Homo sapiens: one gene and its partner. The protein of the gene in region 1 interacts with the protein of each later gene in a pairwise test. Each region holds a gene or a part of one and is shown on either strand. Other genes may lie near its edges.

Region 1 (3,808 bases):
CAATTCCACCTGAGCCCCTAGGCCCTGTATCCATGGACTCTGAGTGTGAGGAGTCACTTGCTGCCAGCCCAATGGCAGCTAAGCCCGACAACCCATCAGGAAAGGTCTGTGTCAGGGAAGTAGCACCAGATGGCCCACTACAAGAAAGCTCCACAAGACTGTCCCTGACTTCAGACCCCGAGGAGGGGGACCCACTGGCCTTAGGGCCTGAAAGCCCAGGAGAGCCTCAGCCTCCACAGCTCAAGAAAGATGATGTCACTAGCTCCACCGGTCCCCACAAGGAGCTGTCAAGCACAGAGGCAGGTTCCACAGTTGCAGGAGCAGCCCTCAGACCCAGCCATCATTCCCAGCGTTCCAGGTATGTTCCTCTGAGCACTGCTTCAGGGACAGGGTAGTTATCTGTGGTGAGTGTCTCTGTTTTTTCCAGGGCTGGCAACTCATCCCTCAGAGACTAATTTACTCATGTCTTCATTCATTAGTTGATGTATTAATTCAACAACACCTACCATGTACAAGGCTCTGTGGCGGGCCCTACAGTAGTGTGGCGGGCCCTGTGGTAGTGTGGCGGGCCCTGCGGTAGTGTGGCGGGCACTGTGGTAGTGTGGTGGGCCCTGTGATAGTGTGGTAGGCAAGGCAGGTTTGGTTCTTGAGTTTAAGGAGTGACAGTCAAGTGGAGAAAACAAATACATACTTACATATCATAAAGTATGATAAGTCCTTTTAAAAAAGAAACAGGGTGCTATTCTAAAGGAGTTGTTCCACTTTAGATAGGGTGGCTAGGGAAGGATTCTGAGAAGGTCACATTGAAAAGATGACTCTGGCTGTAGGTTCTGGAGGGGGCCAACCGCACTAGGAGGCCACTGTAGGGTGTGGGAAGAGATGGTGGCAGCGGAGGTGGGAGGAATTCCTGAGCAGTCACCAACGCTGTTGAATTCTTACCCAAGGGCCGGTGACCCTTGTAGGTGGTGGGTACTGTGACCTGGAGCAGGAACAATAACATTTTCTATGACTTGATTTTCCTTCAGTCTCTCTGGGGATGAAGAGGATGAACTGTTTAAAGGGGCAACTCTGAAAGCTCTGAGGCCCAAAGCACAGCCTGAGGAGGAGGATGAAGACGAGGTGGTAAGGAAATCCCAGGCACTGTCAAGTCCTCACACACCCACCTGGGGGCTCTTCCCTACTGGCTCTGAGAAGAGAAATGGAGCCTGTTGGTGGCCCACTCCCTGGACTCTGTGTGCAGGGCCCTGTGGGAGCAGGCTTGGGGCTGGGCTGGGAGGGCGCAGCTCTGTAAGCAGAGTAGGGGACGGTCACATACCACTTTACTTTTGAGAAAGAATCATAGTCTCTGTCCATGCAGGAATTAGTCCCCTCAGAGGAAGAAAGCTGAGCTGCTTAGCCCCACATTGGAATGCTGAAGCCTTAGTTTTCCCCAAATCTGCTAGGATATTATTTATATTTTAGAATTGGAAAGGACTTTGAAGATCATCTTGCCTGGCATCCTTATTCATAGATAAAAAACCTGAGGCTCAAAATGATGATTTACCCAAAGCCACAGAGTGAGTTAATGGCAAAGCTAGGACTAATCCCCAGGCTCCTGTAAAGACCTCCTGTTCCTGAGCATTTTCCACTTACTCAGCCTGCTTTCCTGCTGCCTTGTTTTGTCATCACAATATCCCTGGGCACAAAATGGGTTCAGTATTAATAGCATAGCTTCACAGAACAAGAGTGAAGGCCAGGAGAGGAGGGCACTGATAGGGACTGAATTAGAACCCCGGTTCTCGCCTCTGCTGCTCCCCGCTGTGCTAGGTTACAACCGTTCTGGCTGTCCCTAGGCCATTTTGACTGCTCTGAAATGCATATGGAGAACACAGGTGGGCTTCAGGCTCAGTCCATCTAAAGGACAGAAATATGAGGGTGAATGGGGCAAATTTTGTCCCCTCATGTATCAGCCAGAGTGGATTTTGCCTTTTGCCAAAACCTTGAGCAGAGAGCTGTGATGGATCTATGCTCCAGCTTGCATGTATCGGAGCCCTTCCCTCTTGCCTGTGTTCCTTTGGGGAATGTACCAGTTCCTTCCATGAGTCTTTCTTCTCAAGAGTTAAATTTTCATTTGAGAATCCAGAATAGCAATTCTGCCCTTAAAAAAAGGAAAAAAGGGGGAAAAACCAAATTGAGTATATTCTAAGTGACTGCCCTAAATATAGTTGGAAGCTTTTAATTAGTGAGCATATTATTGGTATTAGTACCAATACTGTCCAGTTAACATGTAGTTCTTGGGTACTCTGAAAACGACTTCACAGATGTTGTCATTTAATCTACTAATCCAATGAGGTAGGTACTTTTATCCCATTTTATATATCAGAGGGCTGAGGCTCAGGAAGATTAAATAATTTAACTAAGCTTATATAGCTAGTAAATGTAGAGCCAGAACTTTAGTCAGGACAAAACAGAAGCTGTGAGCCACACTTGAAAATCCTATACTGTCAGAGTTAGAGATCACGTCATTGATGTCCAGAGAGAAGTACGAGGTCTGGCTAATTGGTAGTGACGTGGGATTAGCCCAGAGACTTGTATACACATCACGCTGCCTTCCCTTTTGCCTGGCCCTGTGAAGATGGATTCTGGTTGGCAGTTGCTCACCAGAGCAGAGAATGCCTTAGTAGAGACTATTCAGTTCGTGCCTGTCTGTAGCATCAATCCCTGCTAGCCGGGTAGGTCCTGTTCCCTTGCCAAGCCAGAGGAGAAAGGCCAGGAGCTCAAGCTGTGAAAAGAGAGGGTCTCTCATGGCCCATCAGTCCCTTTCACCCCCACTACCTTAGCTGGAAGGAGCGAGGGTGGTGCCAGTCAGGCTAGAGGTGTGGGAGGCTGTGGCCCCGTGTTCTTCACCTCTTAGGATTCTCCAGTTGGCCAAGCCTCCAAATTCAACTCTTTCAAATGATGGGATCACACCCAGAGCCAGTCAGGCCACCTTAGGCCACGACGACAGTATTTTTCCATATGTGATTGTCTTCTTCCCAACCTCCCTTCTTCCCACTTCCTCTCGCTCTCTCAGGGCTGCTTTGCTTCTGTTTCTTCCTACTGCTCCAGTGTTTCCTCTTTGACCCTTCTTTCTCCACACAAAATGTGTAAGTTACTGCATGAGAGGAAAATCTGTCAAATCAGTACATGTGCTTCATAAATAAATGATGAGATTAGCCAAACAAAGTTCATCTTTTGTCTCTGTTGAAAGACTGCCTCCCTTCTCTGCCTGCTGGTCTCAGCTTTATCTGGAAGCCTAGGTTTGCTGGCCTCAGAGTTGGCCCTGTCAGTACAACCTCCTTTCTGACCCAGAGCTGGGAACAGAAGTTGGATTGCTTCCACTCACAGGTGGAAAGTCCAGTGGTGCAGGCACAAGTGAGGACTGACTGCTCTTTCCTGTTTTATCAGAGCATGAAGGGACGCCCGCCCCCAACGCCCCTTTTTGGAGATGATGATGATGACGATGACATTGACTGGCTGGGATGAAGACCCAGGAAACTGGTGCAAAGGTTTCTCTGCAACCCTTCCCTAAGCATGATTTTGCACAGCCAACCCTGGGTCTAGGCGAACCACAGGGTGAGGTCAAGGTGAGCATTCTGGGAACAATATTTGGGCTCAGAGGGTGGGTTGGCCACCTTCTGAGCCCCACCCCCGCCAGACCTGGTGAAGAGGATCATAACCCTGTCTTCAAGAACACTGGGATTTCAGCAGCAAGTTGGAAGAAGGACTGGTAGGTTCCCCTCCAAGCCAGTCACCTGTAAGAGTCCTGTCCTCTGCCAGACTTTTTAAT
Region 2 (4,408 bases), on another chromosome or scaffold:
GGATGCTCTGTTGGACGCTGGAATGCTGGTGCATTGTTGCCGGATGCTGGAATGGTGCACGCATGCTCTGTTGGACGCTGGAATGCTGGCGCATGTGCACATGTTATTGGCATGAGCTGTAGTTCAAACCTCAGCCATATGATGCTTGAATTCCCAAACCATTCGTGGAAATGTGTACTTCTTCCTGCTGGAATTCTCTCTCTCTCTCTCTCTCTTTTAACTGATTGGGGAGTGAGGTGGGGGGGGGGGTCTTGCTACATTGCCCAGGCTCAAACTTCTGGGCTCAAATGATCCTCCTGCTTCTGCCTCAGCTTCTGCCTCGGCCTCCGGAGTAGCTGGGACTACAGGCCTGAAATACTGTTTCTTTAAGGAAGGGCATGTTACCTATAATACCAAACCACAAAAGGATAGCTGCGGTTTTGGGCGAGGAGAGCTCAGAGAGTTTCTTGCATATGGCCCTGTGATGGCGGCCATGGCCCTGCATAGACACGAGCTGGAATCTGCAGGTGGCAGCCAGGACGCTGCGTGTGTCGAGTGCACAGTGTGGCTTGGTGCCAACCATGGCGAGGGTGGAGAGCCCCGTGCCTGCAGCGCGCGCTTCCCTCACTGGGTCCTGCGTCCTTGGGCAGGCGATGCCCCTGCGGGGAGGGGCTGGTCCATCCCCGGCCAGCCACGGACCCACGCATGGACCCAGCGACCCACGGACCTGCTTACCTGGGCGCGGCGCGGGTGGCATGCGGCCACACGGAAGGGGCGCGCTGGGCTGCTGCGGCCTCTGCAGCTTCTACACCTGCCACGGGGCGGCCGGAGGTAAAGGGAGGCGGCGGCCAGGCGCGGCCCCGCGGAGGCAGCTGCACTCGCTCGGTCCACTCGCGGCTTCGCGGCTGCCCGCAAACCAGGAGGGCGTGGAGACCCGGAACCGGGGGGAAGGGCGGGGGCACTTGTGCGGCACCCGCGGGGCTCCCAGGGGACCTCGGCGGTGACACGAATTTCTAGGTGACCTTGGCGGTGACACGAATTTCTAGGTGACCTGTGTGATACACTAGGTGACCTAGTGACACAGGTGACACTTCCAGGTGACCGCGGCGGTGACCCGCGGGGCTCCCAGGTGACCTCGTTGGTGAGCCCCGGGGCTCCCCGACGACCGCGGCGGTGACACGCGGGGCTCCCAGGTGACCCCGGCGGTGCACTCACAGGACTCCCAGGTGACCCGCGGTGGTGACACACCGGGGCGGGCGCGCGCCGCTTCCGCTTCCGCCGAGCCGCCCCCCGCCCCCCGCGGCGCAGCGCGCGCCCCCCTCCCGGTGGCGCGGAACCAATCCTGGGCAGGGAGGCGGCGGCTGGAGGCTGAAAGCGCTGCCGTGGCCCCCTCCCCGCCTCCGCCGCGCCCCCTCCGCACTCGCACGGCCCCACCCGCAGGCGCCCCCCGTGCGGAGGAAGCGGATCTGCCAGGATCATTTTTGTTGTGTCGGAGGATGAGGTTTTGGCTGAGGACTGAAGAGATGGCCTTGGAAGAAATGGTGCAGAGATTAAATGCGGTTTCCAAGCACACGGGTAGGAGGAGCTGCTGGCCGTCAGTGATCTGTGCTTAAGCTTGACATCATGGGCTGAAATGTGGGGAAATGCGTCTGATTTTTGTAAGCCGCCCTCGTGTTCCTTTCTAGCCGTGGTAGCTGTGACATGGGGGGCACTGGTTGGCAGCTGGTGTGTTTTCAGAGGCTGTCGGCGATCGTATGCTGCCCGGGATAGTCAAAATGACTGCACGTTGGTGACACTGGCTCTCTCAGGGTTGCTGGGTCTGCATGCGGAGCCATTTGTGTGTCTGAAGTCTGCCCATCAACCTGCCTGTCCGCAGCCCTCGCAATGGAGAATGCATTGCGAATGGAGAATGATCTGAGCCAAGGGCTTTCAGAGCTTGGGGTTTCAGAGCCAGGGGTAGGGATGGTGAAGCTACCTGGAAGCTCGTTTTGAGGATGAAAAAACCTGGACTAATCAGGTGGTTCTTTTCTTCATTAAATGCAATTTAAACCTAAGACAGATGTTTGAGACGGTATGGGTAAAGAGTGGACTGGACGTTCATTTTCAGTATTAATCGAAATATTACTTCAAATAAGCTTTGAAGAGTAGTTCAGATCGATTCTTTTAGGTGTAAGCAGAGACTGGGCTGACAGCTTGCATCTGGCCGTGGCTTTCAGGCGGTCGCATCTGAGTTCTCAGGCTGTGTTATGCAGAAGGGAGAGGCATCCTTAACTCGTTTTCCTTGAAATGAAGAGGAAATAATGATATATCATTAAAAGTAAGTTGCCAAGTGTTTTGCCTGATGTTGCCATATGTTATGTCATATATGCCATTACTAGTTGTCTAACTAGTACTTGCCTGGGAGATTAAAATGTCAGTTGCTTGGTTTGGGTGTGGTTCTCTTTCTCTGCCCACCCCGATGGATTCTGAGAGTGAACCAGTGATTAAATCAGCATAAGCACCATCGTATGGGATGGTCTAATCAAGATGTTTTTAATGGGGGCTTTTATGATCAAAGCTGCTGGGTTTATTGTATGTGGGTCGAAAGAAAACAAAACCATTTTCATGCCGTCTGCTCCCTGATTCTTAGAGAATCAGCTCTTTTTCTGAAGCTTGAGTGGAGCTTTTCCGTGCAGGGTTTGCAGGGTTTGAGTATGGTGAAGGGCTGCGTGGATGCCAGGTTCACAGGGAGGCTTCCGATCGGCTGTGGGGGTGGAGGAGAAAGCCCCCCTTGCTCTGCATGCCTCTGCGTGCCGTTCGGTGTCAGAGTCACAGAGTGGGAACCGCTCCAGAGGCTGATGTCATTCCCCAGGTTTTTAGGGATTGGGGTTTCTTCATGAGCTCCAAGAGACATGTGCGCATTTTTAATTGGAAAAAGGCTATCTCAGAAGAGCAGCAGTGACACTGTCTGCTCACTGAATGTCGTGCGAGCCGGGCGCTCGGTGTGGGCCATCGTCTCATCTGGAACAGGCAGTGAGATGTGCGTCCTCCCACACATCTGCATTACCGATAATTGCATGCTTCACCAGGACTTTCAAGTCCAGCTTACCAGATATCCTCGGTTATGAGCACCCTGTAGCGTTTAGTTAGGGGAGGTGACCCTGCATCATACTCCACTTACCACCCATTAACACTGGCCTCTTCCTTCAGCACAAACCCATTTTCTGCTCACGCTGTGTGAGGTACTGCTCAGCGGAGGCAAGTTATTAGGTTGAAGGCTGTAAAACCATCATGAGGGGGTTTATGATGCAGTATTGACATGATGCTACCACAGAGTGTACGGGTATGTGGTGCACATTCTCTGGTAGGGGTGAAGGTCAAGGTAAACCTGATCCCCACCTCGGGTTTAAATTCCAAGCACTTCCTCAGGAGAGTTCCCCACCTGCAGCCAAACACTCTTCAGCGGGAGGTCATGGAGCTGCTTCTCCTTCTGGGGTCATGCTAGGATCCGTGCCAGGTAAAAGCTGATGGCAACAGGACACTGATGTGGCGGCTGGTGTAGGTCCTCAGGGCAGTGGCGGGGCTAGGTCACAGCTGAGGGATTGCGTACAGCGGCTGGCCTTAGAGCAGCTGCCTCATTCAGCTGTGCAGAGCTTCACCCTCTGTAGATTCACCCCCAACCCACAGGCATTTTATCTTTGCTGCTGTCCAGGACATGCTGCTGTGTTTTAATTTCAGATTTATGCATTTCTTCTGTCACCTAGAACCTTCATTAGCTAGGCTAATCTGCATGTAAAGGAGGATAATGTGTGCTGTCCATATGGTCTGTGAATCTGTAGCCTTTGACCTTGAGAATTGACATTTTATATACTTTTCTGAACCTGATCTTCAGTAACAAGGCCAGGGGCACTTTCCAGTGGCAACTTCCCCCTGGCCCCCCTTCTATGTGATAGGGCTCATTTTCGTCTGTTTTGGTTTTCTCTTTGGAATTTTAGTCATTGGTGAAAAGGTAGAAGACATTCGAGGGAGCAATGCTATGGATCTAGTTGATTTAAGCATTCGATGAAACAGAACAGTGGTCCTCCAACTACAGCATGTACATGCGTCACCTTGGGGGCTTGTTAAAGCACAGGCTGCTGGGCCCACCCTCAGAGTTTCTGATTCAGGAAGTCTGGGGTAGGGTCTGATAATTGACATTTCTTAAGTTCTTGATGAAGTTCTTCAGGAATCAAACTTGGGGAACTACTGTGGTAGAAGAATCTTTAAATCTAGCCCCACCTTTTCCATTAGTTGACCTAATACTAACTCTTGTCATAGACAGATGATGATAGATGGATAATGCATGGATAAATGAGTGGATGGATGGATGAATGGGTAGATGGGTGGGTGGGTGGATGGATGGGTGGGTGGATGAATGTAGGGGTGGATGAATGGATGTGTGGGTGGGTGG

Evidence for each region.
Region 2: the proteins of FKBP15 (region 1) and MCF2L interact in a two-hybrid assay, tested with the Homo sapiens proteins (one large-scale study listed by IntAct).

What each region holds. Positions count from the first base shown.
Region 1 is NC_000009.12:113,165,774-113,169,581, reverse strand, and holds part of FKBP15 (FK506-binding protein 15), read left to right. Parts: coding exon 1-358; intron 359-1,025; coding exon 1,026-1,122; intron 1,123-3,426; coding exon 3,427-3,504; 3' UTR 3,505-3,808. UniProt on the Homo sapiens protein: May be involved in the cytoskeletal organization of neuronal growth cones. Seems to be inactive as a PPIase. Involved in the transport of early endosomes at the level of transition between microfilament-based and microtubule-based movement.
Region 2 is NC_000013.11:112,967,905-112,972,312, forward strand, and holds the start of MCF2L (guanine nucleotide exchange factor DBS), read left to right. Parts: upstream 1-1,309; 5' UTR 1,310-1,475; coding exon 1,476-1,554; exon of another isoform or gene 1,555-1,612; coding exon of another isoform or gene 1,613-1,637; intron 1,638-1,655; exon of another isoform or gene 1,656-2,296; intron 2,297-4,408. UniProt on the Homo sapiens protein: Guanine nucleotide exchange factor that catalyzes guanine nucleotide exchange on RHOA and CDC42, and thereby contributes to the regulation of RHOA and CDC42 signaling pathways. Seems to lack activity with RAC1.